3 separate regions of the Homo sapiens genome follow, and all the other regions are linked to region 2. The links come from fine-mapping of genetic effects on gene expression. A gene starts in region 2. Each other region holds a variant in brackets. All regions are shown on one strand. Distances are from middle to middle.

Region 1 (11,412 bases), 19 kb before region 2:
CCACCTCAGCCTCCCAAGTAGCTGAGACTACAGGTGCGCACCACCATGCCTAGCTAATTTTTATGTTTTTTGTAGAGATGGGGGGGGTCCTCACTATGTTGCCCAGGTTTGTCTCAAACTTCTGGGCTCAAACAATCTACCTGCCTTGTCCTCTCAAAGTGCTGGGATTACAGGCATGAGCCGCCACACCCAGCCTTCAATTATTAATTAAATAAACATTTGCTAGACATCTGCTGCATGCCAGATGCTGCTCTCAGGACTTCATATTCAATAAATATTTATTGTACACCTACTGTGTGCCAGGAGATATTCTACATGCTGAAAGGCCAAAAAAAAAAAAAGAAAAAGAACCTGGGCCTTATGAAACTTACATTCTACTGTGAGATACACACAATACACAAATAAATAAGAAAATGTAAAAGTGCTAAGAAAAAACATAACAGTGGCCGGATGTGGTGGCTCATGCCTATAATCCCAGCACTTTGGGAGGCCAAGGTGGGTGGATTGCTTGAGCCCAGGAGTTCAAAATCAGCCTGGCCAACATGGTGAAACCCCGTCTCTACTAAAAATAAAAAAATTAGCCAGGCGTGGTGGCAGGTGCCTGTAATCCCAGCTACTCGGGAGGCTGAGGCAGGGAAATCGCTTGAACCCGAGAGGCGGAGATTACAGTGAGCCATGATTGCTCCAGCGCCTGGACAACAGAGCAACAGTCCGTCTCAACAGAAAAAAAAAAAAGAAAAAAATATATATATAGCACTAAAGCAGATGTAGCAATTGTTGGATGATGGTGGGGTCTGCAGTTGGGATAGGGTGGCCTGGTTGCAGGAGAGACATTTGAGGAAAGACCTGATGGAGGTGAAGGAGTGATCCATGCAGATATCTAGGGGGGAAGTGCTTTAGGCAGATGGAACAGCCTTGGTAAAGGTCCCAAGGTTAGAATTTATTCTGGGCAGAACACTGAAGACAGCTTGCAGTCTGAGAGATGGTGACCAGGGAGTTGTCAGAGCTGTGTCGGTAAGCTGCAAGCTGACCTTGCTGAGAAGGGAACAGGTAGGAGAGGCTTAAAGGGGATCACCAGGTGGGCAGAGGGTAGAAAGGGTGCACTAGGCAGAGGGAACAGCTCACACATGTGTGCAGAGGTGAGAAACCACTTTGCAATTTCTGGGAGCTATGGAGATTTAAAAACTTGGTCTTTGTTTCGAGAGTGATTGGGAGCTTCTGGGGGAACTCTCAACACTCCTACCCCTGCCACACTAGGTCTCTGAAGCCGGATTTTGTGCTGATCCGCCAGCACGCCTTCAGCATGGCACGCAACGGAGACTACCGCAGTTTGGTCATTGGGCTGCAGTATGCTGGAATCCCCAGTGTTAACTCCTTGCATTCTGTCTACAACTTCTGTGACAAGCCCTGGGTGGTAAGTAACAGGAAGGGTGCCACTGGCAGAGGGAACAGCTCATGCATGTATGTGGGAGCTTGAAACCAGTCTGCGATTTGGGGAAGTGAGGGTGTTCAGAAACTTACAGATTCGTGGTGAAGGACTCACTGACCCAGCTCTCCTGGTTCTCATAGTTTGCCCAGATGGTTCGACTGCATAAGAAACTGGGGACAGAAGAATTCCCTCTAATTGATCAGACCTTCTACCCCAATCACAAAGAAATGGTGAGTTTGGGGAAAATAGAGTGGGCAGGAGGGAAGAGTCATAACTACTGCAATAATATTAAATATTGGTATATTATCAGCAGTGCGATATCAAGAGTGTGGCTGCTGTGTGCACGTGGAGTCATGAAGTTGCTTTGTGATAGGGTCTACCGTGAATTTCCTTATGCTTACAAGGAAAACTAAATCATGATCCATTCTAATATGTATCAGATCCTGTTACTCATGTTGTCTATTTTTGCCAGTATTAAAAACCTATTTCTAATGTGAATTGACAGAATTAATGTAATGAATCAGAATATATTACATATAGAAATTAAGTCATTATTACTAACATTATCAAATATTCCTTCTGATAGAAATTTTACCTATATTCAAATTAGGATTGCCAATAACATTTATCAATAATAATGTTATAAATTAAATTGTTGGCAAGGCACGGTGGCTCATGCCTGTAATCCCAGCACTTTGAGAGGCTGAGGTGAGCAGATCATGAGGTCAGGAGATCAAGACCAGCCTGGTCAACATAATGAGACCCCGTCTCTACTAAAAATACAAAAATTAGCTGGGCATGGTGGTGCGTGCCTGTAGTCCCAGCTACTTGGGAGGCTGAGGCAGGAGAATCACTTGAACCCGGGAGTTGGAGGTTGCAGTGACCAGAGATCACGCCACTGCACTCCAGCTTGGGCAACAGAGTCCCACCTCAGCCTCCCTCCTATTAATTAATTAATAGAAATTGAACTTTTGGTTACTATTATGAAATATAATCACTGGCCGGGCGCGGTGGCTCATGCCTGTAATCCCAACACTTCGGGAGGCCGAAGTGGGCGGATCACCTGAGGTCGGGAGTTTGAGACCAGCCTGACCAACATGGAGAAACCCTGTCTCTACTAAAAAAATACAAAATTAGCCCGGCGTGGTGGTGCATGCCTGTAATCCCAGCTACCTGGGAAGTTGAGGCAGGGGAATCGCTGGAACCCGGGAGGCGGAGGTTGTGGTGAGCCAAGATCACGCTATTACACTCCAGCTTGGGCAACAAGAGCGAAACTCCATCTCAAAAAAAAAAAAAAAAAATATATATATATATATAATCACTAATATTACAAATTATCACTAATATTATAAATTATTTTTACTGTTGTAAATTATGAGTACCTATGTCATGAATTAAATTATAGTTTCTAGTAGAAATTGAATAATCATTACTAATAGCATCAAAGATTATTGCTGTTATTACAAATGATTATTGCTATTACAAATTATGCTCTAATATAAATTATAAGTACCTGTTTTGACTTACATAAACATGGCATGCAGTGGAGACTACCACAGTTGGGTCATTGGGCTACAATGTGCCAGAATAAAATATGCTGAACGTTTAAATAATAGAAATTGAATTATCATTGCTAATATCATCAAATATAACAACTAATATTACAATGCATTACAGTGTTACAAATTAAGTTTATTACTATAAATGATTAGTACTTATGTTGTAAATTGTTATAATTATTTTTTAAAAATTTAAACCCAAAGTGGGAGGATCTCGTGAGCCCAGGAGTTTGAGACCAGCCTGGGCAACATAGCGAGACCCCATTTCTACAAAAAATTTAAAAATCAGCCCGGCATGGTGGCATACACCTGTAGTCCCAGCTACTTGGGAAGCTGAGGTGGGAAGATTGCTTGAGCCCTGGAGGTTGAGGCTGCAGTGAGCCATGATAGCACCACCGCATCCCAACCTGGGCAAC[A/C]GAGTGAGACCCTGTCTCAAAACATTAAATAAATAAGTAAATAAAATTAAACCATTAGTACAAACAGTGTAAAAATTTTTACAGATATAACTATTACCAGTGTTACAAATTAAGATTACTAATATAACCCATGAGTACCTGTGTTTTGAATTATCTTGTAGTTCCTAATAGAAATAATTACTAATATGGTTAACATTCTAACTGCTATTATAAAAAAAATCACTAATATTAAAATTTTGATTACTAATATAAATTATGAGTACCACAGTTATGAATCAAATTTTAGTTACAAATAGAAATTAAATAATTGTTACTAATGCAATCAAATTGTATAAGTAATTTTGTCAATTTTTACCAATATTACAAATTATGTTTACTCATATAAATGATCATCACCAATTTTATGACTAAAATTACAATTAAATATAAATATTGACCCAACACTATCAACTTGATTAAATAAACATTGCTACTAATATTAGCAATTCTTACCAGTACTACAAATTATGATCACTGATATACGTCAACAGTGTTGTAAGTTAAGTTTACTTACAGATAAAGATTGAATCATTAGTTTTTCTTTTTTTTTTTTGAGGAGGAGTCTCGCTCTGTCGCCAGGCTGGAGTGCAGTGGCACAATCTCAGCTCACTGCAGCCTCCGCCTCCTGGGTTCAAGCGAATCTCCTGACTCAGCCTCCCGAGTAGCTGGGACTACAGGTGCGTGCCACCACGCCCAGCTACTTTTTGTATTTTTAGTAGAAAAGGGGTTTCACCATGTTGGCCAGCATGGTCTCAATCTGCCCGCCTCGGCCTCCCAAAGTGCTGGGATTACAGGCATGAACCACCATGCCCGGCTTGAATCATTAGTTTTAAGGAAACCCAATTTGTTTATCATTATTATTAGTCTACATTCTTTGAGAGACAGTAGAGCAGAATGTGATTAAGAGCATGGACTCTGTAGCCAGAATTTCTGTATAAGAATCTTACCTCCACAACTTATTAGTTGCTTAACACAGGAAAAGTTACTTAAACGCCCTGTACCTCAGTTTATTCATCTGCAAAATGTAGGTAATAATAGTTCCCGCCTCATATAGTTGGTGTGAGAATGAAATTACTTAGTAAATGTAAGGTGTCTAGAACAATGCATCTGGCATATATTAACTGCTACCTCAGTGTTGACAAATTTCTCCTTCTATTCTTAGTTGGTTGAGTATTTTTGTCGTGAAAGGATGTTGGACATTGTCAAATGCTTCTTCTGTGTTTATTGACATGATTGTGTGAATTTTGTCCTTTATTCTATGAATATGGTATGTAGTACATTAATTGATTTTCATGCAAGTTGATACGTTCATAAGTTTGTTTATGATGTGTCTAGGTGTAGACATTTGCATTCCTAGGCTAAATCTCACTTGGCCTTGGTATAAATCCTTTTTGTATGTTGTAGGATTTAGTTTGTGATTATTTTGTTAAGGATTATTGTATCTATATTCGTAAGAGACATTGCTCTGTAGTTTTCTTATGATGTCTTTTTCTGGTTTTGGTATCAGGATAATACTGGCCTCATAGAATAAGTTGGACAGTGTTCCTTCTTCTATTTTTGGGAAGATTTTGTGAAGATTGGCATTAATTTTTTTTCTTTTTTTGAGACAGGGTCTTGCTGTGTTGCTCAGGCTGGTCTTGAACCCCTGGGCTCAAGCGATCCTCCTGCTTTGGCCTACCAAAATGCTAGGATTACAGGTGTGAGCCACCATGCCTGGTCGGTATTAATTCTTTTTAAATGTTTAGTAGAATTCACCAGTGAAGACATCTGGTCCTGGGTATGTCTTTGTAGGAAGTTTTACTTATTCCTAAATCAATCTCTTCACTTGTTATAGGTCTATTGAGATTTTCCATTTCTTACTGAGTCAGTTTTTGTAGTTTGTGTCTTTCTAGGAATTTGTCCATTTCATCTAGGTTTTCTAACTTACTGGCACATAATTGTTCACAGTACTCTCTTATACTCTCTTATAATACTTTTTATTTCTGTAAGGTCAGTAGTATGTCCACTCTTTCATTCCTGATTTTAGTAATTAGAATTTTCTGCCCTTTTTTATTCTTAGTCTAAAGGTTTATCAATTTTATTGATCTTTTCAAAGAACCAAATTTTTGTTTTATTAGTTCTCTATTTTTAAAATTCTTTATGTCATTTATTTCTACTCTTATTATGTTTTTCCTTGTGCTTGCTTTGGACTTAGTTTGCTCTTTTCTTTCTAATTTCCTAGAAAAAAATGGAAGATTAGGTTACTGATTTTGATATCTTTCTTCTTTTTAGATATAGGCAGTTACAACTATGAATTCTCCTTTAAGCACCACTTTAACTGCATCCCTTACATTTTGATATGTTGTGTGTTCATTTTCATTCATCTCAAAGTATCTTCTAATTTCACTTGTGATTTCTTCTTTGACCTATTGGTTATTTAGGAGTGTGTTACTTTCCACATATTTGTAAATTTTTCAAATTTTCTTCTGTTTTTGATGTCTAATTTCATTCCATTGTGGTCAGAGAACATATTTTGTATAATTTCAGTCCTTTTCAATTTACTGAGATTTGTTTTCTGGCTTAACATATAGTCTGTCCTGAAGAATGTTCCATGTGCACTGAAGAAGAATGTGTATTCTGCCATTGTAGGGTGAAGTGTTCTATAGATGTTTATGAGGTCTAATTGGTTTATAGCATTTTTCAAATCTTCCTTATTGGCCATGCACAGTAGCTCACACCTCTAATTCCAGCACCTTGGGAGTCTGAGGCGGGTGGATTGCTTGAGTGCAGGAGTTCAAGACCATCCTGGGCTACATGGCAAAACCCCAACTCTGCAAAAAATACACATGCACACACAAAAAGCCACATGGTGGCACACGCCTATAGTCCCAGCTACTCAGGAGGCTGAAGTGGGAGGATCACTTGAGCCCAGAAAGTGGAGGTTGCAGTGAGCTGAGATTGCACCACTGCACTCCAGTCTGAGTGAGACCACGTCTCCAAAAAAAAAAAAAACTTCCTTTTTGGTTCCCTGTCTAGTTGTTTTACCCATTTCTTTAAATGAGATATTGAAGTCTTCAGCTATAATTGTTGAATTGTCTATTTCTGTCTCCAATTCTGCCTGTTTTTATTTCATATATTTTGTGCTGTGTTGTTAGGTGCACATATACTTATTATTGTTAAATCTTCTTGATGGATTGACCATTTATGCTTATAAAATATTTTTCTTTATCTCAAGTAACAATTGCTGTTTTAAATTCTATTTTACCTCATATTAGTATAGCTATTCCAGCTCTCTTTTGGCTATTGTTTGCATGGTAAATCTTTTTCCATCCATTTACTTTCAACTTATTTGGGTCTTTGAATCTAAAATGTGCCTCTTACAGATAGCATATAATTAAGTCACGTTTTTCATCCACTGTGCCTATTAACCCTTTACCGTTTGTGCTGAGAACACTCTCTGATGGCACTTGCGGCTGCAGTGTTTACCCTGAGATAACTTTGCCACAAACTGTCTCATTTTTATTATTATTTTCACATCACTCTAGTATATCGACTTTGGAAACAAAAGACATCATTCTATTTATAGCATTCTGTTTTTAGGAGTGGTATTTCCACTTACAAAATATAGTAATTCTCAATCATTGAAAATGTCAAATCCTAGAAAATGTAACATCCCTACAAATGATGTTAACATCGTTCTTGAACAGTCGTTGGATGAAGAATCATTTGATGAATCTGATTTTTCCAAAATAGATGGTTCTGATGATTCAGATGATTCTGATGATTCAGATGATTCTGATGTTAGTTCAGCTTAGAAATAACTCCAAGAATAGTTTTTATATTTTGTTTTGACATTGAAAATCAGTTAGCTTTGCTTCAGCCTCAAAGAGCATGTTTATATAAAATCTAGTGAGCACAGGCAGCAAGCTGCACGTTTTTTTTTCCTAAACAGGAAAAGGGTTAATCGCAGTGTTTAATTAACTTATGTTATTGTAATTCCTGATAAGGTAGGGTTTATGTTTGCAATTTTGCTATTTGTTTTCTATATCTTATTTTTTGTTCCTGTATTCCTCTAGTAATGCCTTCTTTTAAGTTAAACAGATATTTTCTAGTGTACCATTTTTAATTTTTCTGTTATTTCTTCCCTATGTCTTTTATTCATTTTTTTAATTTAAAAAATTTTTATTTTTTTTTGATACAGGGTCTTGCTCTGTCACCCAGGCCAGAGTGCCATGGTAGGAACATGGCTCATTGCAGCCTCAACCTCCTGGGCTCAAGCTACCCTCCTGCCTCAGCCTCCTGAATAGCTGGGACCACAGGCATGTGCTATCATGCTCAGCTAATTTTTAGTTTTTTATTTTTTATTTATTTATTTATTTATTTATTTTGAGACAAAGTCTCACTCTGTCACCCAGGCTGGAGTGCAGTGGCACGATCTCGGCTCACTGCAACCTCCACCTCCTGGGTTCAAGCAATTCTCCTGCCTCAGCCTTCTTAGTAGCTGGGACTACAGGTGCCTGCCACCACACCCAGCTAATTTTTTTGTATTTTAATTGAGGCGGGGTTTCACCATGTTGGCCAGGCTGGTCTCGAACTCCTGACCTTGTGATCTGCCCACCTTGGCTTCCCAAAGTACTGGGATTACAGGCGTGTGCCACCGCACCTGGCCAATTTTTAATTTTTTTGTAGAGACAGGACCTTGCCATGTTGCCCATGCTGGTCTCAAACTCCTGAGCTCAAGTTACCCACCTTGGCCTCCCAAAGTGTTGTGATTACAGGCATGAGCCACTGCACTTAGCCTGTTTTTTTTTTTTCTTAGTTGTTTCCTTGGGTATTACAATTAACATCATTATTTATATTACTCCAATTAGAATTAATACCAAATTAAGCTCAGTAATACAAAGAAATTGCCTCTATATAACTTTATTCCTTCATCCCTCCTTTGTGCTATTATTGTCAAACAAATTACATCTTTACACATTGTGTGCCCATGAACATAGTTATAGTTATTGCTTTATGCAGTTGTCTTTTAAATCAGGAGTAAAAAAGTGTTACACGCAAAAAAATGCATTTATACTGTCTTTTATATTTACCTATGTAGTTAACTTTACAGGTGCTATTTATTTCTTTATGTAGATTTACATTACTAGCTAGTATCATTTTATTTCACCCTGAAGGACTCCGTTTAGCATTTTTTGTAGAAGTTTGTTAGTGATGAACTATCTCAGTTTTTGTTTATCTGTGAATGTCTTAATTTCTCCTTCATTTTTGAAAGATAATTTTGCTGGATGTAGAATTCTTGTTTGGCAGTCTTTTTCTTTCAGTACTTTGAATATGTTGTCCTACTGCCCTCTGACTTCAAGATTTCTAATGAGAAATTAGCTGCTAATCCTATTGAGGATTCCTTGTATATGATGAGTTACTTCTCTCTTACTTTCAAGATTCTCTCTGTCTTTAGCTTTTATAAGTTTATGATGTGTCTGGGTGCCTATCTCTTTGAATTTATCTTAGTTGGAGTTCAGTGCACTTCTTGAATGCATAGATTAATGCTTTAAATCAAATTGGGGGGATTTTTAGCCATTATTCCTTCAAATAGTCTTTCTTGCACCTTTTTTTCTCTCTTTTCTCTCTCCTTTTGGGACTTCCATTATGTGGGTGTTCATATGCTTCATGGTGTTCCACAGACCTCTAGGACTGTGTTCATTTTGTTTACTTTTCTTCTTCCTGTTCCTCAGATTGGATCATCTCACCTGACCTGTCTTCAAATTCACTGATTCTTTACCCTGCCAGCTCAAAGCTACTGTTGATCCCCTCTAGTGAATTTTTCATTTCAGTTATTATGCTTTTTATCTCCAGAATTTCTTTTTTTTTTTTTTTTTGAGATGGAGTTTCACTCCTGTCACCCAGGCTAGAGTGCAATGGCACAATCTCGGCTCACTGCAACCTCCACCTCCCAGGTTCAAGCAATTCTCGTGCCTCAGCCTCCCGAGTAGCTGGGATTACAGGCACACGCCACCATGCCTGGATAATTTTTGTATTTTTAGTTGAGAGGGGGGTTTCACCGTATTGGCCAGGCTGGTCTCAAACTCCTGACCTCAGGTGATCCACCCGCCTCAGTCTCCCAAAGTGCTGGGATTACAGGCATGAGCCACCATGCCCGGCCCAGAATTTCTTTTTCATGTAATTTCTCTTTATTGATACTCTCTACTTATTAGGATATCATTTTATCCTTTCCTTTAAGTTCTTTAAACATAGTTTCCTTTAGTTCTTTGAAAATATTAAAAATCACTGATTTACAGTTTTTGCCTATTAAGTCTAACATCTGGGTTTCCTCAGGGATAGTGTTTGACTGCTTTTTTCCCTGTGTTTGGGCCACACTTAATTTTGTTTCTTTGCATCTCTCATACATTTTTGTTGAAAACTGGACATTTAAATAATATAATGTGGCAACTCTGGGAATCAGGTTCTCTCCCCTCCTCAGGATTTGTTTTTATTGCTTTGTTTTGTTTTTAGTGACCTTCCTGAACTAATTCTGTAAAGCCTGTGTTCTTTGTCATATGTGGCTACCCAAGTCTCTGCTCCGTTAGCTTAGTGGTCAGCTAATGATTGGACAGATATTTCTTTAAATCACCTGAAACCAGTAAGTCTCCCAGACTTTGCTGATGGGCTCTATGTGCATGTCAGGGTGTGCCTTTAATGCAAAGGCAGGCTGTTTACAACTTTGCCTTATCCTTCATTTCCTGCTTGTGCAGAGTTTTGAGGTCAGCCAGAGATCCTAGGCATACATACAGCCTTATGCGTATTTGTGGTTTTCTAGATTCCCAGGCATATGTCAGAGCTTTTTAAAGCCTAATAATGGACTGATAATGGATATATAATTACCTAGATTTTCCTTTTAAGTTTTCTTGAAAAGCTTGTTGTTTTTTCCTAAATGTTATCACTGCTGTGTTAAACAGTTGCTGCTAATTGTTTCTGAAAAGCACCCCCAGAGAAAGCTGTTTATACCAGATGAGCCCCATGAGTGGAGTATTCAGGATAGTGCCAGACAGATCAAATAAAGACAGTTCTCTGGAAATGAGATTTTGGAGGAACTCCAACCCTGTTCTGCCTCCTCCAATGGTTGCTAGTCTGCTGGTTTTCACTGGAATTGCAGGGCTGTTGATTTTCAAGGCTCTTGTGGAGGTGAGGAGAAGGGGATGTGTACAAGAGAAGTTCAAATGCCACAGCTTCCTGTTGTTACCAAGATTCAGCCATTTTCTTGAAAAAATGCTTTCTGAATTGTAAACCTTGGTCAATTTCCAGAGTTCTGATAAGTTTGTTTTGACAATTTTTGCCAGTGTTCTCATTGCTTTTAAGCAATTTTAAGGAGGAGAAGACAGGCTCTTACATTTCTGCTGACATCACCTCCAGGCATATCTTGTTCTTTCCCGGCCCCAGCCCAAAGATAATAGTATTTCAAAGCCAAGATCTGGGAACTAGATTTACTCATTGCTACTGGAATGTTCTTGCTTCAAGGCCCTCTCATTGTACACAGCTAGGACATTTCATTTCTTTATGTATATATATATAATTTCATATATGTGTATATATAAAATTGTTATATGTGTGTGAGTAGAAGAATCAAACTGTTTTTTCTTCTGCTCTCACAATACCATGTGTGGAGGCTTTTACACACACACCAAGAAGCAATTAATTCTGCAGCAAATTAATATACCAGCTGGATGTCCTGCAATTCAATTCTGACACTATCTACCTGGAGGATAGCATCAGATCACACAGGTTAAGGGTGTAGTCCCACAGGACTAAGCCCTACTTCTAATGCTGATGGCAAGCCCCAGGTTATTTTACCTGTGCTTCTGACCAACTAGCTATAAATCGGGGTCCACAACCCCTTCCTCAGGTTCAATTAGTTTGCTAGTGTGGCTCATGGAACTCAGGGAAACACTTATTTACATGATCGGTTTATTGTAAAGAGTATTACATTACAAAG
Region 2 (9,869 bases):
ATCAGGACTGTGCTTGAGGCAATGATAGTCATTTGCCAATTGGTAGGGCATTTGTCAATGACTCTGTCAGCTGGCAAGATGTGTGAATGGGGAATTTCCAGTAAGGCAGTGATTTGTCAGCTGTGGGATAATTTATAACTAGAAAGCCCTGGGCAAATAGCAATTAGGAATCAGTATAGGAAAATGTTTTAAAGTATTGGCTGGAGAAATTATTCAGAGGTTACGGTTGATAATGCAGGTTCAGTGACCATTGCTGCTGTTGCAGATCATCAGTGCTAATGCCAATGTTGAGAATTACTACCAGTACATCAGAATTTAAGTAAAATATAAAAACCCAACATTTGGCATCCCTCATCCCCACTGGTCCCAGGGTGCTCACACCAGGTCATCAGCAACATGGGTTTGTTCCCAGGCACTACACAGAAACAGTGTCTGCTGGGTGGTAACTCTTTATTTCATTGTCCGGAAGAAAGATGGGAGTGGGAACAGGGTGGACACTGTGCAGGCTTCAGCTTCCACTCCGGGCAGGATTCAGGCTATCTGGGACCGCAGGGACTGCCAGGTGCACAGCCCTGGCTCCCGAGGCAGGCAGGCAAGGTGACGGGACTGGAAGCCCTTTTCAGAGCCTTGGAGGAGCTGGTCCGTCCACAAGCAATGAGTGCCACTCTGCAGTTTGCAGGGGATGGATAAACAGGGAAACACCTGGAAGGGAGGAGGGAAACATCTCTGAGGGCTTCTCCCTGCCTCCCCCGTGGAGCAGAACTTCCTCTCCTCAGCTTTCAACACTGAGCCGCTGGGGAGACTTGCTCTCACCCCACCTAAGTACATACCCCAGGACAGCCCCTCCCATTGAGGGAAATGTCACTGGGTCCTGAAAGGTAACAGTAAGCCAGTAAATCAGTGTCCTGGAATGGTGGCTGGGGAATAGGCCCTGGGGGTCAGTCAGGCAGGTCGCCTGTGGAATTGTCCCAAAGGACAGGGAAAAACTGGCAGTAGTAAGGGGCCCCACCCGGTTGGCGGCTAAGGAGTTTAAGCACAGGAATAGCCAGTGGGGCTTCAAGATAGTCACTGGGCTCAGAGGCCATCAGGAGCCATCAGGGAACAGGCTTGGACTAGCCAGGAGGTCAGTGTAACACCCTCTGGTGTCTGGAATAGTCAGAGCTGCAGAGCAACAAGCAGATGTGCTGAGGAAGGGTCAGTGGGATTAGGGAACAGCACTTTGGGTTCTTGGAGAACATTCTGGGGAACCAAGAAACAATCCCGGGGGCTCAGGAACGGGGAGTGGGATTACAGAATAGTCACAAGGGAGAATTAGAGGGACCAGGGAGGGACAGGTGATCACACGGTATTGGACACAGGGAAAGGGAGCAGCCAGAATTTGTAAGGGAGCAGTCTCGGGCTTGGGGAAATAGCAAGAGAGATCAGGGACAGCCCTTAGGGTTGGGGAGCAGCCACAGGGACACAGAATAGCCAGAGGGAGCAAGAAACAAGCCCACGATTTAGGGAATGGCCCCGGGAAGGATCTCCCGTTGGAGGTCAGGGTCCAGGCACTCACTGTGCATTCCTCACAGCCAACAGTGTAGGTCTTGGTGAAGCCCCGGCGCTGAGCTAAGCTCAGGCTGTTCCAGGGAGCCACAAAACTGCAGGTAGTGATGTGCAAGAGTCCATCCTGCAGTTTTCCTAAGGAGAAAGGCGGGGCGGGGACCGACAAGCAGCTTGTGATTGGCTGAGCTGCCAAGCTGCCAAAGGCCCGGCCTTCTGATAGACTGAAATTGGGGTGGTCCCCATTTCCAGTGGGACCATTCCCATCAGAGCCTCGCCCCCTCGTGGTTGCTAGGCCGCGCCCCAGGGACTGGTTGGTGTGGCACAGGGCGCGGGGACGGTGCCTCACCAGCAATGAGAAACTCCTCGCTGCGGTTGTGGGACCTGTGGAAGTATCCGCAGACACTCTCCATGGCGGGGGTGTAGACGAACCGGATGTCAGCGGCATCCCCTAAGGCTTGGAACCCTTTATACATCTGTTGATGGATGAGGGGAAGTGTCTCTTTTACTGACATAATCCTCCCACTCCAGGTTCTTCCCTGAAGTCATATAGCATCCCAAGATCACAGCCAACTTTCTCGCACCAACCAGTGGCCAGAAGTTTCTGTTTTGACCAGGAGGAAGATGTTAGAAAATGCTGGGAAAGAGGCGGGGGCAGGGGATACCTTGGTCATCTTGATCTCATAACGCTGGTATAAGGTGGTCTGGTTGACTTCTGGTGTCCCCACGAACTTGGCCCTGATGACTGCAGGAGAGGAGGGAAATATGAGTCAAATGGACTGCATGAGCCAATAAAAATAAGATCATCATCATCATCATCATCATACCAGCAAAGCGCATACATAAATAGGGGTTATTGGATGCCAGACAGCACACAAAGTGATTTACACATTTGTTCATTGATTCATCTGTATGTTGAGTGTCTCTCTTTGCCGGGCACTGCTTAAGCCATTTTCATACATTGATTTGTTCATTTACTCCTCAAATATTTGGGAGTGCCCACTGTGTGCCAGACATTGTTCTGGGTGTTAGGGACACAACAGTGAACAAAACACAGAAATCCCTTTCCTTGTGGAGTTCACATTCTAGCCAGGAGGAGACAGGCTAAGAACAAACAAAATAAGGATATGGAATGTTAGACATTAAGTATAATGGGGAATTACAGACCTGGGTAAGGGGCTGACAAAGATTCTTTGCTTGACCAAACTTTACTCAGGCTCCTGAACCTCCTCCTAGGCCCATCTGTGCACTTCCTTGTAAAATCCAGTTTTAGCCGAGAGCCTTGCTAAGTCAGTTTAGCAAGAACCCCTATATTCTATATCTGATCATCCTCAATCTCTGATCATCCTCAATACCTGATCATCCTCAATCTCTGATCATCCTCAATACCTGATCATCCTCAATCTCTGATCATCCTCAATACCTGATCATCCTCAATCTCTGATCATCCTCAATCTCTGATCATCCTCAATACCTGATCATCCTTGCTATCTGACTGGGTTCTTCATCTTCCACCATCCCCCAGGTGATGTCTGATTCCCCTTGGCCTGCCTTCAGCAAGAATCCTGTTACGTCGGTTTAGCCAGAATCCCCCTTACCCCTGATGTTTCTTCTTAGTAATTTCCACCCACAGACCCTCACACTGCTCCTTAGCTACACATTCCCACTGGCCCATGCTATATTCAGTGTTGAGCCCAATCTCTCCCACCGACTGCAAGATCCCATTGCAGTGGTTCCTATACCCATCACCATGGTCCTGAATATGGTCTTCCTTACTGTGTTATAACAAGTATCACTGAATATTTTTCTGTTTAACAGGAGATCAGGAGTACTAAGGGGCAGGGGTTAAAATTTTAAACAGGATGGCCAGGGAAGGCCATCCTGAGAAGGTGACGTTTGAGGCAGCCACCCATGTGGATACCTGGGGGGAAAGTGTACCAGGCAGAGGGAGCAGCCAGCATGCAGATCCTGTGGTGGGCTTGGGCACAGAGTACTCAAGGAAGTGTGAGGATGCCAGTGTGGCTAAAGCAGAGGAAGTGCAGGGGCGAGTGGAATCATTCTAGAGGTAAGTGCCATGGTGAGCCCCACTGGACTGAAAGGGAAACCAAGGCAGAGTGTGTGGGCTGAGTGGGGTGAGGACTCACCGAGGTCGGAATTGCAGAAGGCCGTCTGTGGGTGGGGTGGGACACAGGTGCAGGCCCTGCTGGGGGCTATCAGCCACAGCAACAACAGGATGCCAGAAGCCAGGGGCTCAAAGGGGGCCATGGTGGGTTCTGTGGGGAAGGGGGATGTCAGGCAGGCCCCGGCCCAGCTGATCTGCTGACCTGGGCAGGTCATCCACCCCATCTTGCCCCGGGGCAGCCTATGGGGGGGATTAGGGGGCTGGATTTGGGCTTGAGGGGTTGGTAAGCTTAGGGATTTTAAGGGGATTGGGGAGCGCAGAGGAATTTAGGGTTTAGAGAGTTGGGAGAGTTTAAATTATTGAGGGACTGAGTGAGTTGCGGGGTTATGGGGTTGTGGCACTTGGGGGAGAAGGGGGCTGAGGAAGTTTGAGGAATGAGGGGATTGGGGAATTCTGGAGGTTGAGGAGTTTGGGGGTGAGGAATTTGGGATTGGGGGCTGGAGGAGTTTGGAGACGGCAGAGTTTAGGGGTTGTGTATATTAAGAGATATAAGAGGCTGGGGGAATTTAGGGAGGTTGAGGAATTTGGAGGAGGTTGGGGGTTTAGGGAGCTGGGGGAGTTTGGAGGTTGAAGGGGTTGGGGGAATTTGGGGGCTTAAGGCAATGGGGATACTTGAGGAATTTGAGGGCAAAAGAAGTTTGGGAGCTGGGGAACTGGGGATTGGGGAGCTGGGGGAGTTTAGGGAGCTGCAGGGGTTAGCGGTGGGTATTTAGGGGGCGATGAGGGAAATTTCGGGATGAAGGAATTTGCGGGGGGATTTGGAAAGCATTTGTGATATTAGGGGGTCATGGGTTTGGGGGAATTGGGGGCGGATGTCAGGGGTTCTAGGGAGTTTGGAGCCTCGGGGTTGGGAAAGCAGTTCCAGCCTCCGACCCTCTTCCCCCTAGACTAGCCCAGGGTCCTGGTACCCGCAGGCCAAGCTGAGTAGACAGGCATCTGGCACGGGAGTGCACGGGCCTGGTGGCCAGCACCCAAGCTGCAGCCCAGCTCCGGTCCCTGCTGGGCCACCCCGGGCCCTGCTTACCTCTGGTGTCTCTCTGGGCGCTGGATCTGCGGCGATGGCGGCAGGGCCTGAGCGCTAGAGGATAAATGTCCACGCTAGGGGCGGGGGTGGCAGCGGGTGCGGAAACCACAGGCCTCCAGGCTTCCTGGATGCATTACTCATCCACCCACCATCAGTGCAGAAGCCAAGGGGCGGGCCGACGAAAGGAGATACACCCTCCTCCTCTCCCACCCGCCTCCTCTCCCTCTCCCTGGGCCTCGCCCGGGCCAGCCACCTCCCCCACCTCCACGTCAGTCACTATTCCTTCCAAGCCGCCTCAGCGGAGAGCTTAGAGGCCGCATTTCCCCCGGCCCAGTCCCCTAAAGTCTCCAGAATCTATCCAATCACCCACATCCCCCAAGCTCCCTATGACTCAAACCCAAATTAGTTCAGCCCTTCAACATTTATTGTGCATCTACTGTGTGCCAAGCACACAAAAATCCCTTGTTTTGTATGTCTGACATGCTGGTGAGGGGTGGCAGAGAGGAAACAAATTAAGTAGCAGCAGTGGAGGGAGATAAGGCAGGTGAAAGGGGAGGAATACAAAATGGGGAAACTGAGGCACGGAGTGGTTAAGTGACTTACCCAGGATCACAGAGTCAATACATGGCAGAACTGAGACTGGAACTCAGGTGGCCAGGAGCCAAAGCCAGGGTCTCAAATAACACAGGCAAATAGCCGGCATTTATACAGCACCTACTGTATACCAGGCACTCAGCATAGTTTATCTCACTCAAAGCTCACAACAAATCTCTGAGATGGGTACCGGTTCTTATTCCCGTTTTACGGATGAGGAAATATGGGGCGTAGAGGAACTGTAGAATTTTCCTAAGATCACAGGGCATGGCCGGGATTCAAACAGAGGCTACCTGGCACCAGGGTTGTAACTCAGGAGTGGCACCGTCCTAGCAAGCAGGGAATGGTGCGGGTGAATGAATGAGCATTGGGAAGGGGGTGGCCATGAATGATGGTGAAAGAAGCAAGTGAGTGGGTCAGTAGAAAACTAATCCCCACCCCATCCTGCCCTGCCCCCTCCCCATGGACCTGTACCCCTGGTGGGGGGTGGGGTGGGGCAATCCTTGCCCACCAGCTTTCTGACAATGCAGGAACCTTCCCTGGGGTTCTGATTAACATCCTTAATTCGAGGAGGATAGATCAATAATAATAATTGTAGTGATGATGGCAGCCACTTATTGAGCACTTTCTGTGTACTATGTGCTAAAGTGTTTGTATAAATTATCTCATTCACTCACCATACTCCCTTGCTAATTAAGTTTGATTAACTCAGGGATGATAGCCCAATAACAAGAACACAACAAAAACTACCAGCAGCCCTTATGGAGTGCTTACTGCGTATCCAGCACTATTCTGGGTGGGAGGAATGTGAGGGATGAGAAATTGCCTAATGGGTACAATGTACACTATTTGGTTGATGGGGACACTAAAAGCCCAGACTTCACCACTATGTAATATATCCATGTCACAAAACTGCAGCTGTACCCTCTAAATCTATTTTTTTTTTTTGACAAGAGTCTTGCTCTGTCACCTAGGCTGGAGTGCAGTGGCGCGATCTCAGCTCACTGCAACCTCCGCCTCCGGGGTTCAAGAGATTCTCCTGTCTCAGCCTCCTGAGTAGCTGGGATTACAGCCACACCACCACCACCCCCAGCTAATTTTTGTAGTTTTAGTAGAGACGGGGGTTTCACCATATTGGTCAGATCTCGAACTCCTGACTTCAGGTGATCCACCTGCCTCGACCTCCCAAAGTGTTGGGATTACAGGCGTGAGCCACCACACCCGGCCTTCTAAATCTTTTTTTTTTTTTTAGACAGAGTTTCGATCTTGTTTCCCAGGCTGGAGTGCAATGGCAAGATCTTGGCTCACTGCAACCTCCACCTCCTGGGTTCAAGCAATTCTCCTGCCTCAGCCTCCTCAGTAGCTGGGGTTACAGGCACACGCCACCACGCCTGGCTAATTTTTGTATTTTTAGTAGAGACGGGGTTTCACCATGTTGGCCAGGCTGGTCTCAAACTCCTGACCTCGGGTGATCCGCCCACCTCAGCCTCCCAAAGTGCTGCGATTACATGCGTGAGCTACGGCACCCAGCCTAAATCTATTTTTTAAGAAAGCACTTGGCCGGGCATGGTGGCTCACACCTGTAATCCCAGCACTTTGGGAGGCTGAGGCAGGCAGATCGCTTGAGCTCAGGAGTTCAAGACCAGTCTGGGCAACATGGTGAAACCCTGTCTCTATTTAAAAAAAAAAAAAAAAGCACTGTTCTAAAGTCTTTTTACAGACATTATCTCATTTAATCAATCCCGATTGCCTCTTTGTTCATTAATGTTAGTTAAGGAAGAGATGTTAAGCCAATAATAAGAGTACCCAACACTTCTTGAGGATCGAGGCTTACTGTATGCCCGATACCATGTAGAGCATTTTTCCCAAAATAACTAACTTATTTCTCACAATATCCCTGTGAGTTAGATATAGCTCATGTTCTCATTATACAGATGAGGAAACTTAGACACAAAAGGGCTGAGTGACCTACCCAGGAATGAGAATGAAGAAATGGCTCTGCTGCGGGGTGGTGGGGGGAGGGTGGGGGGGCGACAAAAACAGGGAGGAAGGGAAGTAAACCAAAAAAATCTGTAGGAGCTGATTATGAAAGTGGGACAGTGAGAGTGAATGAGACGGGGCTGAGTAACCTGGTGCCTCCGAGGGAGAAGTGAGGGCAGGGGAAGTCCTGCCTTGGCCCCTCGCTGACTCTGGTTCTGACGCCAACTCTTTGAAACCTGAGTCAGCACAGAGTGTTGCCGACTGTTTACATGAGGAGTCGTGTGGATCCGGTTATTGTGCAGTTTTGAAATGGAGAGTGGGAGGGGTGTTCATGGAGGGGTGTGTGACCATCTGGGGAGCTGGATGGGTGTGGGGGCCCATGGGGGTCCAGGAGGCATGTGCAAAGCGGACACCTGACAATGCCCACAGCATACCAGGTGCTTGGGCCTCATTGTGCTCTTTGTGCAGATGGGGAAACTGAGGCTCAGGGAGAGGTTGTGTCCTTCATGGCCTTAGGAAGAAGAAAGGCCAAAATTCAGACCTAGGGCTTTCCAGGAGCTCCCAGAGTCAGAGTTCAAAGCACTCTGCATGCACACATGTATGGGCACACACACATATACAGAGCGTTGTGTTCAGGCTCAAGTCCAGAGAAAACAAGGACAGTTAACGAAAAGAGGCACCTAGAAACCTCAGGGTTGTTGGGGGAGGTATGGGTGTGTACGCACAGCTCTCTGGTGTGTTGTGTGTCCATTGCTAAGAGTCGAGCATGTGCCTGTGTGTTTTGTGTGTTACTTCTGGGAGTTGTCTACCAGCCTCGGCAAAGCGGATCTGGGTTGCATATGTAACTGAGTGCATTATGCACTTCTGTGTGCTGTGCGCACACCTGGGTGGTACTGTATGCATCCGCCTCGGCATCGTTTCCCTGGCCCGCTGCCCAGAGATGCCCCAAACCCCCGTCCCAACATCGTGCCTCTCAGCCCACCTCATAATGACGCCAGTCATTTGGGAAATGAGGAAGGGGGGGTGTGCAGAGGGAGGCCTTAAGGTCAATCGGTCACCCTGAGTCTGCGGGCTTCCTGTGCCTGTCGGGAACTGGGAACCACCACCGCCCCAGCAGCCCCTCCGGGAATGCCATCTCTCTACCTTGTCAGCGAGAGGGAGGGCCACCAGAGGGGCACTGTGCAGCTGTGCTGTGGGGGTGGGGGTGGAGGGAGCGGGGAGCCTAGGGCCGTCCAACCTGGTTTCCTCTACCCCATCCAGGAGCGGGGGAGACTTGAGGTATCCCTCTCGCCTGAATGTGTGACTGTATGTGTGTTGGGGTGGGAGTGCCCAGGAATGTTTTCTGCAAACTGAGTTGTGGGTGTCTCTGGTTGTGTGTAGCCTCTCTGTATTGTATATGTGGCAAGGCATGTTGTGTGTGTGTCTAGATATACTTTTTGTATGCCCAGGAATGTGGCGTGGGTCTCTTACGGGTCCCAGTGGTGATGTGAATACCTAGAAGTGCATACACCTCTGTGTGTTGTGTAGGGCCTTATTTGCTGTGCATTTGCCTAGGGGTGTTTTATGTGTGCCTGTGTGTTGAGTATGTGCCCGGTTCTGTGGAGTGTGCCTGTGGAGTTGTGTGTCTCTTGATTGGACGGGTAATCTTTTGTGTTGTGTGTGTTCCCCTGATGGTGATGTGGGTTTGGGTGAGGGGAGGGAACCTGGGTGTGTGCCCAAGTATTGATTGTGTGCCTAAGGGTGTCCAGTGTGTGCTGCCCTGGAGTGCTGGCTGCTGACCCACGCTATGGGCACCTGGCTGGCTGAATGACTGTGTGGGTGTCTGTGCTGCTCCAGAGCTCATGTGCTTTGAGCCTGTGTTGGCTGTCAGTCTCAATGTCACTGGCATCTCTGGGTTTGGCGATGTACATCTGAGTTCCAAGGGCTCATGCCTCTCAATAGTTTATGTGTGCAGGTGAGGCTTACATACAAGGTTTGGCTGAGGGGTTCAGTCACTACATGCTCACCACCACTCCCCACCCCCCCCACCCCCACACACACGCACTGGCACACACTTGCCTCACTATCATCCATCCACTGTAAAAACAAACTTTCTTTTTACTGGAACAGTCCCCCACGCTCATACCATGCCTCTGCCCGGGAAAGCAGGGGCGGGACGTCTGGAACTTGTTGGTGGGGTGGAGTGAGGGACAGACAGACAGGGCTCTGGGTTCAATTCTGGGCCCGGAGGTGGAGACACTGTGTGACCCCCAGCTGCTGCCTGCCTGTCTCTGACCTGTGTGTCCTGGGAAGTGACTCATAATGCAGTTCCCACTGGCTGGGATCCCCTCAGTGCCGCCCCACCCCTGGAGGTCACCCTTTCTGCCCTGAGCATGTCTCCTCTGCCTTTTCCCCACCAGCTCAGCAGTACAACGTACCCCGTGGTTGTGAAGATGGGGCACGCACACTCTGGGATGGGCAAGGTGAGTCTCTGGCTGGGCTGTGCATAGGTAGATGTGTATTTGTGCAATGCACACCAGTCATTCTGTGTGATCGCGTCTCCTGGGG
Region 3 (11,412 bases), 31 kb before region 2:
CTTTGAGAGCCTGATACTGTCCTGTTCTCCTCAACCCTTGCCCTGAGGCCTTCTCTAATGGGTCTTGTGAGCATGTGTCCAGTCTATGCTATGTGTCCCACCCCAGCTCCGTCCTTAAAGCCCTTTTAAACTATTTAGTAAACATTGAGTACCTGCTGTGTATCCCACCCCAGCTTCTCTCCAAAAGCTTTGCCTTTCATGGATCCTGTGAGTTTTGATTGGATGCCTTCTCTGTGCCCCAACTCCAAGCCCTCTCTCTGAGGGCCTTTTCTCCAAAGGATCTAGGAAGCATTTGTTAAGTGCCTGATACGTGCCGCACCCCCAAACCCCTTCTCAAACAAATCATTTTCCTCCAGTGAGTTCCATGAGCAGTTTTGAACCTTCTTTGTGTGACTCATCTTCAGACCGTCTCCTCAAAGACCTTTCCCTACAGTGGATCTAGAAAACATTTATTGAGTGCCTCTTGTATCCCCCGTTCTCCAGCTACTTCTTCAAAGACCTTTCCTTTGGTGGATCCATCTAGCATTTATCAACTGCCTGCAGTGTGAGCCTTCTCTAAAAGTTCTTTCCTCCAGTGTATTCAGCAAGCATGCATTGACTGGTGCCTGCTGTATACCCCACCCTCAAACCCTTTCTGCAATACCCTTTCCTCCAGTGGCTTCAGTCTGCATGTATTGAGCACTTTCTGCATGACCCAACCTTAGACCTCTCCATAAAGGCCTGTGCCTCCAGTTAATACAGTGCTCAGATATCTGGCACTTGCTGTGTGTACCATTCCAGTCACTCTTTCCAAAGACCTTTTCTTTTAATCACTCCTTGGAGTATTTATGGAGCACCTGCTGTGTACCTGATTGTGTGCCTTCTTCACAAAAGCCTTTTCTCCTATGGATGAAGAATCGAGCTCCCATAGATCAACTTTCTGCACTCCCATTTCCCCTCCCCATAGGACTTTTCCTTCAGGGATGCAGTGAGCCTTGATCAGGTGACTATATGTCCATCCCCAGCCCCACTCCCCAAAGGCCTTTTCTTCTAATGGATCCAGTGAGCATTTATTCCTTGTCTGTCATGTGCTCCATTTTAATCATCCTCCCCCAAAGACCTTTTCTTCCAATGGCTCCCCTGAGCATTTATGGAGTGTCTTCTGTGTGTTCTGTATATTCACACCTCCTCCCCAGAATTGTTTTCTTAACAGTAGATCCAGTGAGCACATATGCAGGACCTGTTGTTTTGGGGAGTACATTCTTCTTCCTTACCCCTAGGAGAGCCTGTTCCAATCACAAGGCCTCTCCCAAGGTCCTTTCCTGTGATAAATCCAGAGCTGAGTTTATAATGATCACCCCTTTCCCACTCCCTTCAGTACCCCTAGGATTCCCTCTACCAACTTTAATTCATACCCCCAAAGGGCTTTTAGTCTATTTAAGTAACACTTACTTAAGTAAACACTTTTACTTAATAGTTTTACTATTGACTTAATTTACTAAATAAATTTAGTAAATTTACTAAATTTACTATTTACTTAATAGTTTTACTATTTAAGTAAACACTTATTGAGCACTTACTGTATAAGTCACTTTCAACTTCCTCTTTCCAAGTCTCTGGAAATCCCTGACCCTGCCTCAAGAGCTCTCTCTCTAGGGGTCTACTTCAGCCTAAATGTATTGAGTACCAGCTGTTTACTGGTTAGATTACCTCTCCCCCAGGAGCCTTTACCGAGTAGCCTTTCTCTCCATTCAGAGCAATTTATTCATTCTGCAGATATTTATTGCATCCTTTCCATGAAAGTGTGGGAGGCATTTATTATGCACCATTATATACTAGGAATAACCCTTCTTCAGCTCCCCTTCCTTCTTTTTTTTCTAAATGCAGGTGTGCTTGAAATCCTCACCTGCCAGCTGGCCTTGCTATACCTTTTCCTCCATGCAACCCCACAATCATTTAATGAGCATTTATCGTATACTACTGAGAACCCTGCGTTAAATGCCTCTTCTCCCCTTTTTGTAGTCCCAATTCCCCCTTCAACAATCTCCATCCTGCCTTTTACACAACACAATCCTGAAAGCTCACAATGTGCACTGTTTTCCATTTATTCTAGCTAGGCCTCTTCCTCCACTTAGTAGCCATCTCCCCAGCTGCCTTTTTCTCCCCGAATTAGTCCAGAAAACACTTATTAATCTCTTACTGTATTATTTTCAAACAGCCACATTATCATCCCTGCAGCAGGCTTCTCCGCTTTTTTCTCTATCAATCTGTAAAGCATTTATGGAGCACGTGCTGTAATTCCTTCACCAACGTCCACTCACCAACGTGTTATCTTCCTGGTTAAGTTTGCTCCATTGAAGTCAGCAAACATCAATGAGGCCTCTGCTGGATATAGGTAATCACCCTCCTTTAGACTTCCGGTCTCCACTCCAGCCCTCCATGCAGGTCCTTTGCGTCTGCTTCCTTCTTTCCATCAAGCATTTATTATCTATGGAATACTGACAAGTCCCTTCCCCTTTCCATAATCACAAATTCAATGTTTTCCATTTTTTCTTTGTCCAGAAAACATTTATTGAGCACCTGCTGAATTCAGTGAAAGATCCATCCCTTCCCCTTCTGCATCTCAGAAGCCCCCCTTTATCCCAGCATCCCCTCCAGTCTTTTCTTCCAGGCAATCTAGCAAATATTTATTTAGTGTCTACTATATGTGGGGTGGGGTGGACAAAGGGACAGAGCCTATGTATGTACGCCAGGCTCAGTGTGGGGAACAGAGACCTGTTTTACCAACTTGCAGACACTCAGAACCACACTAGCTTCAGGGATTTCAGCCCCAAATAAAGCAGGAGTTGTGCAAACTCTGTGATGGAATGTACACCGAAATACAGTCTGACGCCTTTTCCACCAAACCTCACCACCCTCATTCCTTCCTGGGTCTCAATTCCTCTGTGGTTTAAAGTTGAAAACTCTAAGTTGAGACTCATCTCCCCCATTTTGTGGGTAATTTTGTCCTGTGTTTTTCTTTCTTTTTTTTTTTTTGAGACGGAGTCTTGCTCTGTCGCCCAGGCTGGAGTGCAATGGCACGATCTCGGCTCACTGCAACCTCCGTCTCCTGGGTTCAAGCGAGCCTCCTGAGTAGCTGGGACTACAGGCACATGCCACTATGCCTGGCTAATTTTTGTATTTTTCGTAGAGATGGGGTTTCACCATGTTGGTCAGGCTGGTCTCAAACTTCTGACCTCGTGATCCACCCACCTCGGCCTCCCAGAGTGCTGGGATTACAGGCTTGAGCCACCGTGCCCGGCTCTCTGGTGTTTCTCAAACTATGGGTCACCTATTGGCTTATGACCAGCATTTCACTTTCTTCTTGAAGTAGGATAAATAAAAATAGAGAATAACAGAGCATATTGCACATAGTAAATGGAGTTGTTGTTTAGCAAAACATATAATGTTATTCCATTAAGATATACAATCTGTAATGTATATTATATATGACATACGGTATGTAATACATGTGTTATACAATGGCTTTACAGTACATAATACATCTATATGTATATGTTCTTCTTCATGAAATGAAATAAAATAGCATAGAAAAATCAGACTGCATTACACATAGTAAAGGTAATTATCTATTGAAACTTTAATTCCAGTTATGCATATGTATTTATATACATTCTAAATACATATACACATAATATGTAATATACAACATTTTATATGTTACATAATATATAAGACATTCTATATTCTCATATTTGCTGTACAACATATGTGTCTTATATAATACATATATAGGATGAGTTATTATGCAAATACATATATAGTGGGTTATATAAGCTTTATTTCTTACTGTGGCTTCTTTTCTCAGATATATTTCCCTGGAAGCAGACCCCGAGACTCTGAGATTTGCATGCAGATTTACTGGGGAGAGCGCTTGGGAATAACACCTGTGGGGGAGGTTGTGAGGGAAGCAGGATTGTGCAGAGGGAAAAGTTGAGCTGTGATGCAACCACAAAAGAGGCCTCGGCCAATCCTCTGGGGAGCTCTGGCACTGGAATGACCCTTCAGAGTTGTCCCAGTTGAAGCGGGGTGGCCAGGCTTTGAATTCCTATGTCAGTCATTGGCTGTAGGCTGCCCCCTGGGAGGAGGCGTAATCTTGGGTGAGGCAAATCCCTGTTGCAGAGGCCAATGCCCAGTGAGGGACACCTATGAGCCATCAGCAGCGGATAATTCCAGAAGCTGAGGATAGATGCAAAGGTCTGGAACAAGGAGGTAAGGATCTGGGGGGAGCATATAGTCCACACCTTGCACTGCTCCGATCCACTTCCTTCTTATAGTAAGTTCACCCCATTGGGGAACGGCATTTCCAGAATTCTAATCGGTCTTGTTTTCTCAGGGACACTTGAAAGAGCACGGTAGTGAGATGAGCCATAGTCTCTGCTGCTGCAGTTGATTTCAACGTCATAAATGATATTCATCCTCTCCTTCTTTTGTTACCCATTCTAGATTCCCCCCACCCTCAGCTAGCACCACTCTTGGTCTGGGTGGCTCCCATCCTGCAGAGATCCCTGAGCCTTTGGTCCCCATGCCCTTCTCAGGCTGTAGCTGCTGTACAAACAACCACATTTCCCATTTACTATCAAAGTTGAGCAAGGAGTACCAACAGATGCCCAAGTGGATCCCCTGGGTGCCAGACATACTCCTCCCTGCCTCCACTGTGTACCAGCAGCTCTACCTCCTCCTGAGGAGCAAGGTTGGTCACGTCCCCTGCCAAGACAATGGCTCCTTTTTATGTCCCTTGGCATGAGAAACACGAAGTGCCCTGAGGGCAATCATAGCTTACAGTTTAATGGGATTCTTGCTGTGTCCCCTGGTAGCAGTGTTCCCCCTTGGAGAACCAGGACCTCTAACCTTGCAGAGCCCTGAGGGAACAGGAAGCACAATTTCAAAAGTGGATCACTGGGATTGCTGGTAAGCTGGGCCACTCCTTCCTAACCTCTGTGTCCCCAAACCGGTGTATTCTACCTGTTAGGAACACAGCACCTACAATGGCCATTGATTTAGGGTTGACACTGTTTTGGAGGATGGTGCCCATTCTTGCATGATCTCACCTTCAACCTGGGATCTTAGCTGTGGCTGCACCAAATTGTTCCATCATTCCATCAGGCCAGCAGCTCCCGGGTGGCGTGGTGTGTAATACCATCAGTTAATTCCATGGTCATGGGCCCACTTTTGCACCTCCTTTGCTTTGCATTCCTTTACTTTGCTATAAAGTGTGTCCTTTGGTTTGACGCAGTGTTATGCAGGGTCTCGTGCTGGTGGATCAAACGTTATGTAAGCCCTTAGACAGTGAGCTGGCTGAGGTCCTGCAGTAAGAAAAGGCAAACTCAAATATGGAATATTCCAGTCAAAATCGATTACTGTTCTTTGCAGGATGGAAGGGGCCCAATCTAATCAGCTTGCCACAAAGTGGTTGGTTGGCCTTCTGGAGGGATGGTGGCGTGTCAGGGATTCAATGTTAGTCTCTGTTGCTGGCAGATTGGACATTCAGCAGTAACACTGCTGCCCCCACACATAGCTTCTCTCTCTGCTGCTATTGCCACTTATTCATGTGCCCATCTGCTAACACTGGGGTGGCTGATTAGAGCCTGGCTGACATCATCGGGCTGACTCATGCTGTCTACCTGGTTGCCTAGTGTCACTTCCATGGCGCCATGGCAGATGCTGTCTGGTGGGTGTTAACACACGATCCAAAGATCCTCGCTCCTCCCTTTTTTTTTTTTTTTTTTTTTTTTTGGAGACGGAGTCTCGCTCTATTGCCCAGGCTGGTGCTGTGGCACGATCTTGGCTCAGTGCAACCTCCACCTCCCAGGTTGAAGCAATTCCCCTGCCTCAGCCTCCCGAGTAGCTGGGATTACAGGCGTGCGCCACCACGCCCGGCTAATTTTTGTATTTTTAGTAGAGATGGGGTTTCACCACATTGGCTAAGCTGGTCTTGAACTCCTGACCTCAGGTAATCCGCCCACCTCGGCCTCCCAAAGTGCTGGGATTACAGGCGTGAGCCACCGCGCCCAGTCTCACTCCTCATTTCTTGCCCACTCCTAGGTGTCTGCCCACATTTCTGTATCCCAGACCTCTTTGTCTGGATCTTCCAGTCTTTTTATTTCCAGGCCCCTGACCAACCAGCCAAACCATTTACCACTGCCCATAAGTGGATATATGTATTCTAATCTTGAGGCACTTCTCTTTCTGCACAAAGGAGATGAGCAGGTGCACAGCCTGAAGCTCTGCCCACTGGGAGCTCTGCCACTGTCTTTCAAGGCCATTCCAGTTGGGTTATAGTGCAACCACTGCCCATTTTTGGCTTCCACCCACATACTAAGACAACCAATTTGTGAACCAAGCTTAGACCTTTCCCTCTTTCATCAGCTAGTTTTAAGGAGTCCCCTTAGTGAGACAGGCACTAGCACAACAGTGTGGAAGACATGGGGATCAGGGTTACTTACCTGCTCATGCACCTTGCTTGGTTCTGCTTGGGCTCAATCCTGACTGCTGGGCCCACCTGACTTTATTATTTGGCGGGCCCAGCAGGACCCAGCTTATAATGGGAACTTCTGGATGCACAATCATTTGGTGCCTGGTCAAGCATTCTGTCTCTATCAGGGCCCAGCACCTCAATGGGGTGTCTTTCTCAAAAGGCGTAAAATTCTCTGCTGCAGATGGCATGGCTTTGCTCCAGAACCCCAAGGGCCTCCCACTCAGGCTTCCCATAAGCTCCTCACTGCATCTTTCCCCACTACTGACACCTCCAGTATCATAAGATCTGCCAGATCATCTGGCCTAAATGGCAGGACTGCTTGTACCACAGCCTGGACCTGCTGCAGAGCCCTTTTCTGCTCTGGCCCTCACACAAAGCTGGTAGCTTTACATGTCGCCTGGAATATGGGTCAGAGCATTATTTGTGTGTGGGGGACATGCTGCCTCCAGAATGGGAAGAGGCCTCCTAGGTATTGTGCTTTCCTCTTCATGGTGGAAGGTGCGTGATTCAATGCTTTGCTCTATTCTTTGGAGGGGCTGTCCTGGTTTACTGCCCTGGACCACTGGATTCCTAAAAATTTTACTAATGCATCGGTCCCCTGAGTCTTTGTGGAGTTTATCCTCCACCCTCTGTAGTGGATGTGTCTTACCAGGGCAATATGCTCACCCTCTCTTGCTCATCTTGCACAATCAGTATGATGTAATCCATGTGGTGGTCCAGTGTGCTATTCCATGGGATGTCCAGATAGTCCAGGTTTCTCTGGACTATATTATGACACCAGGTGAGAGAGATAGCATAGCCCTACAGCAAGACCATCTATGAATATTATCATCAGTCTCATGTGAGTGTAAACTGTTTCTGATCCTTTTTTCTAATCAGAATAAAAAAGAATGCATTTGCCAAGTCAGCAGCCACCTGCTGTACCTGAGGTCTTATTAATCTGCTCTGGCAATGACAGCGTGTCCAGTATGGCAGGTATAACTAAGGGTACTACTTGATTGTGCTTGCAGTAATCTGCAAGCATTCTCCAGGACCCATCTGACCTCTCCAGGGGCCAGACTGCTCAACTCGATGGAGATAAGATGAGACCAACACCCCTGCATCCTTTAGATCTTTCAATGTGGCATTGATTTCCATCATCACCCATAGGATGCACACAATATTGTTTGTGGTTTATTGTTTTGTTCAGGGCATGGGGGTGTGCGCCATTTTAGAAGCTTCTATTTGGACTTCCCTACTGAAACAGCTCTTATCCCACAGGCTGAGGAGCCCATGTAGGGGTTCTGACAACTACAAAGTATGCCATTGCAATTACGCATTTGTGAACTGAGGAAGTGACCACTGGGTGGGTCTCTAGACCCACCAGACCCACTGTAAGCAGGACCTGGGCCAGGACTCATTTATCACCTTACCACTACTGTGCTTCTCAGC[G/A]TGACTGGTACCACCCTCACCAGCATGTTTCTTATTAATTTCATAAGTTGAGTGTATCCTCCAGGCCTTAATCAGCTGGTGGGTTTTCCAGACTTCAGTAGTATATCTACTCCAACATGTCTGCTTCTTTGAGCCCTTTAATCCTTCCCTGTGCAATCTGCCATGGAAGTTCTGCTTCACTTAGTGTGGGCCATTGTTTACTCCAGGTTTCCAAATACCAGTGTGTTAGTAACACTTCCTAGAGTCCTCGCCAGGGTTTTAAGTTCCGTATCCTGGGAGAGCACACCAACTTCCTGTTCTACCTCCTTCGCCCATTGTCCTCAGGATCCAGTCTCATGCATACCTTCCCAGCTCCTGCCAATACGTACTAGCCAGATTCTTTAGGTTCTTCTACAGATCATTTCTCTCCCTTTGCAAGCCTAGAACCTGTCCAGTCAGGTTTCACTAGGATTTCACCCTAATTTTTGGTCTGGTTTCCAGGAGGGTAGGTGGGGGGTAGACTCTGAGGGGGGCAGGCATTGTCTTACAAAGCACCTGCATCATCCGAGGCCTCTGCATTATCTTCAAGCAGAAGGTCTATATTCTAACTCAGGGGAGTAGTCTACTTCAGCAGGCCCAGTGGATGCAGGTGAGTCTGTAAGTTCAAGGTGTTTAACTGCATCTGCCCAGATATCCCCATCTCAGAGTCCTACTCCTGTCCTATTAGGGACATGAGCATGGCCCAGGAGATGTGCTGGGCCTGAGAAGTCAACTTTCTCCGAAGCTCCGCCACCACGTAGAATTAAATTCTGAGCCTGGCCCTCCCTTCTGTCTGCCCTCTGACTGCAGGAGATGAGGGTTTCCTTAAATGCAGTCAGGGAGATCCTCTGGCTTTCACATTTTGCCTTGAATTCACCCTGAGCATGTCAGGTCTTTCTTCAGCTACTCAATGGCGTTTAGGGAATAGTCACCCAAGTCTGGTTACCATTTCCCTGACATCACTCAAGTTCCAGGGATATTTCACCATCCAGTACATTCCCTTCCACCAGAATCCCATTACAGCCCACCATCAGGAAAAGTCACCGCTACTCCAAAACCCTGGGGGCCTGCGCTGTATTCTCCCACCTGGGAGAAGAAATTCCACACAGCATCTTTTCCTACTACTGACACCTCCAGTGTCATAGGATCTGCTGGATCATATGGCCTAAGTCACATCCTGCTTGCACCACAGCCCGGACCTGCTGCAGAGCACTTTGCGTTGCTACAGCATATCGGAGGCTATCTATGCCCCACCTCCCACTACTGATGGGTCCTCACTGCCATCTGGCTGCTGGGTAACCCAGCTCCAGAATTGCATTAGACCACCCTTGTAGTTTGACTTCCATGGCCCACTGTTTTAGGTTGGGTTCCCTGGAAAAAGACTTTGAGGTGGAGATTTGCATGCAGGAGGCTTACTGGAGTGTGCCATTGGGATCAACACTTGTGAGGAGGGTTGGGTTGAGCAGAGGAAGAGGCTGGCTCAAGATGTAGTTGCCTTAGGGGCCTCCGCTGCTCTTAGGGGGAGCCCTGGGGCTGGGAGGGTCCTTCAGAGTCAGCCCAGATTGAGGCAAGGAGGCTGGCCTTTCTTTCCCTTCATAGACCAGACCATGGGGATGCCCTCATGAAGTAGGTGTAACCTTGGACAAGGCAGTTCCCTGTGACAAGACAATTCCCAGTGGGGACACAGCCATGAGCTGTCAGTAGCTGCCATTCAAGGTACATTGTCCCTGAAGAGGAGGCCTGAGCAGACCACCACAGTATCCAACTACACTTATGGTCAGAAAAGTTTTAGAAACAGTGATACACCCTCATCATCCCCACTCATCAGTTTATAGATGAAAAATGTGCAGGGCTGAGAGAGATTCTCTCTCAACACTTCTGAGGGGATAGTGTCAGCGATGGTGTGTGTGTGTGTGTGTGTGTGTGTGTGTGTGTCAGAGAGAGAGCAAGGAAAAAGAAGTAGCTGTACTTGGGGTCTCTTGCATATGTCAGTCAAGTCACCAGGGTCCATTTGTGCCGTGTGTGTGTGTGTGTGTGTGTGTGTGTGTGTGTGTCTGTCCAAGACCCTGATTGTATGTGTGTCAGTGACCAGTAGCCCTGAAAGTGTCTCTCCCCCTCATCCCCCTTCCATGATAAACCTGATTGAGGATGAGCTTCCATCCCTGGAGCAAGCAGCCTGTTGGCTAGAAATCTTGAGCCTGGGGGAGGAGGCCACCGGAAACCAAGCCCAGCTGGGGACGGGCCCGGGGACAATGACATAGCAGTTCGTGATGTTCCTACTGCTGCTCCCACTCCCCCTCCCTCCTGTTGCTCCCTCTCCTCCTCAGCTGCATTCCTCCCTGCCCCCCATCATTGCCAGCTACACTGGCTTCTCTAGAGCCACCCAGCCTGCACCACTCAATCCACTCCTCCTTATCGGATGCAGCTGCCCACCTATGGCCATTGTGTTTCTCACAGCACACAACCACACATGGTGAATGTGCTCCTCCTTGCGAAAGGGCCAGAGAGCAGAGAGATGCTTCAGGCCACACAGCCAGACACAGGCACTGACATATACACAGGCACTAAAAAATACACAAAAACAGGCACGCTTCAGAGAAATGTAGTTTCTTTCTCTCCTTCCTTCCTTCCTTCCCCTTCCTTCCTTCCCCTTCCTTCCTTCCTTCCTTCCTTCCTTCCTTCCTTCCTTCCTTCCTTCCTTCCTTCCTTCCTTCCTTTCTCTTTATTTCTTTCTCTTTTTTGCCTAGGTCTTGCTCTGTTCCCCAAGCTGGAGTGCAGTGGTGCAATCACGGCTCACTACAGCCTCGACCTCCTGGGCTCAAGCCATTCTCCTGCCTCAGCCTCCCCAGTAGCTGGGACTACAGGCATGCACCACTATGCCTGGCTAGTTTTTGTTTTTTGGGTTTTTTGGAGATGGAGTCTCGCTCTTGTTGCCCAGGCTGGAGTGTAATAGCACCATTTTGGCTCACTGCAACTTCCGCCTCCTGGGTCCAAGTGATTCTCCTGCCTCAGCCTCCCAAGTAGCTGGGAATACAGGCATGCACCACTACACCTGGCTAATTTTGTATTTTAGTAGAGAAGGGGTTTCACCATGTTGGTCAGGCTGGTCTCGAACTCTTGACCTCAGGTGATCCACCCGCCTTGGCCTCTCAAAGTTGTGGGATTATAGACGTGAGCCACAGCCCTCGGCTTTTGTTTTTTTTTTTTTTTTTTCAATTTTTTTTGTAGAGATGGGGGTCTCTCTATATTGTCCAGGGTGGTCTCCAACCCTTGGCCTGAAGCAATCCTCCTACCTCCAGCCTCCCAAAGTGCTGAGATTACAGGCGTAAGCCACCGTACCTGGCCAGATAGGTGTTTTCTAAGGTTCTTTGCTGTTTACCGGTCTCCATGCAATTTCAAAGTATGTTCTAATTTACATAGTGCTGCTAATTTTGTGAAGTTTTTTT

What was found.
Region 1: its variant is fine-mapped to the expression of TIMP1 in whole blood (TOPMed, PIP 0.94).
Region 3: its variant is fine-mapped to the expression of TIMP1 in whole blood (TOPMed, PIP 0.97).

The regions. Positions count from the first base shown.
Region 1 is chrX:47,595,225-47,606,636 of GRCh38, reverse strand. It overlaps SYN1 (synapsin I), which reads left to right. Exons shown (of 13, transcript NM_006950.3): 4 at 1,258-1,414; 5 at 1,570-1,659. Among named protein-coding and RNA genes, the nearest start is that of MIR4769, 14 kb to the right of the region's middle. The variant A/C (reference allele first, on the strand shown) is at 3,405.
Region 2 is chrX:47,577,354-47,587,222 of GRCh38, reverse strand. TIMP1 (TIMP metallopeptidase inhibitor 1) reads right to left here and starts at 4,787. Exons shown (of 6, transcript NM_003254.3): 1 at 4,749-4,787; 2 at 3,687-3,815; 3 at 2,208-2,287; 4 at 1,892-2,018; 5 at 1,556-1,680; 6 at 434-702. The coding sequence starts at 3,807. The coding sequence ends at 532. It overlaps SYN1 (synapsin I), which reads left to right. Exons shown (of 13, transcript NM_006950.3): 6 at 9,722-9,784. RefSeq lists silencers at 4,830-4,929, 4,990-5,139, 7,470-7,643, a cis regulatory region at 7,257-7,777 and an enhancer at 9,479-9,773.
Region 3 is chrX:47,607,495-47,618,906 of GRCh38, reverse strand. All of the region lies in intron 1 of SYN1 (synapsin I), which reads left to right. Among named protein-coding and RNA genes, the nearest start is that of SYN1, 6.7 kb to the left of the region's middle. The variant G/A (reference allele first, on the strand shown) is at 7,949.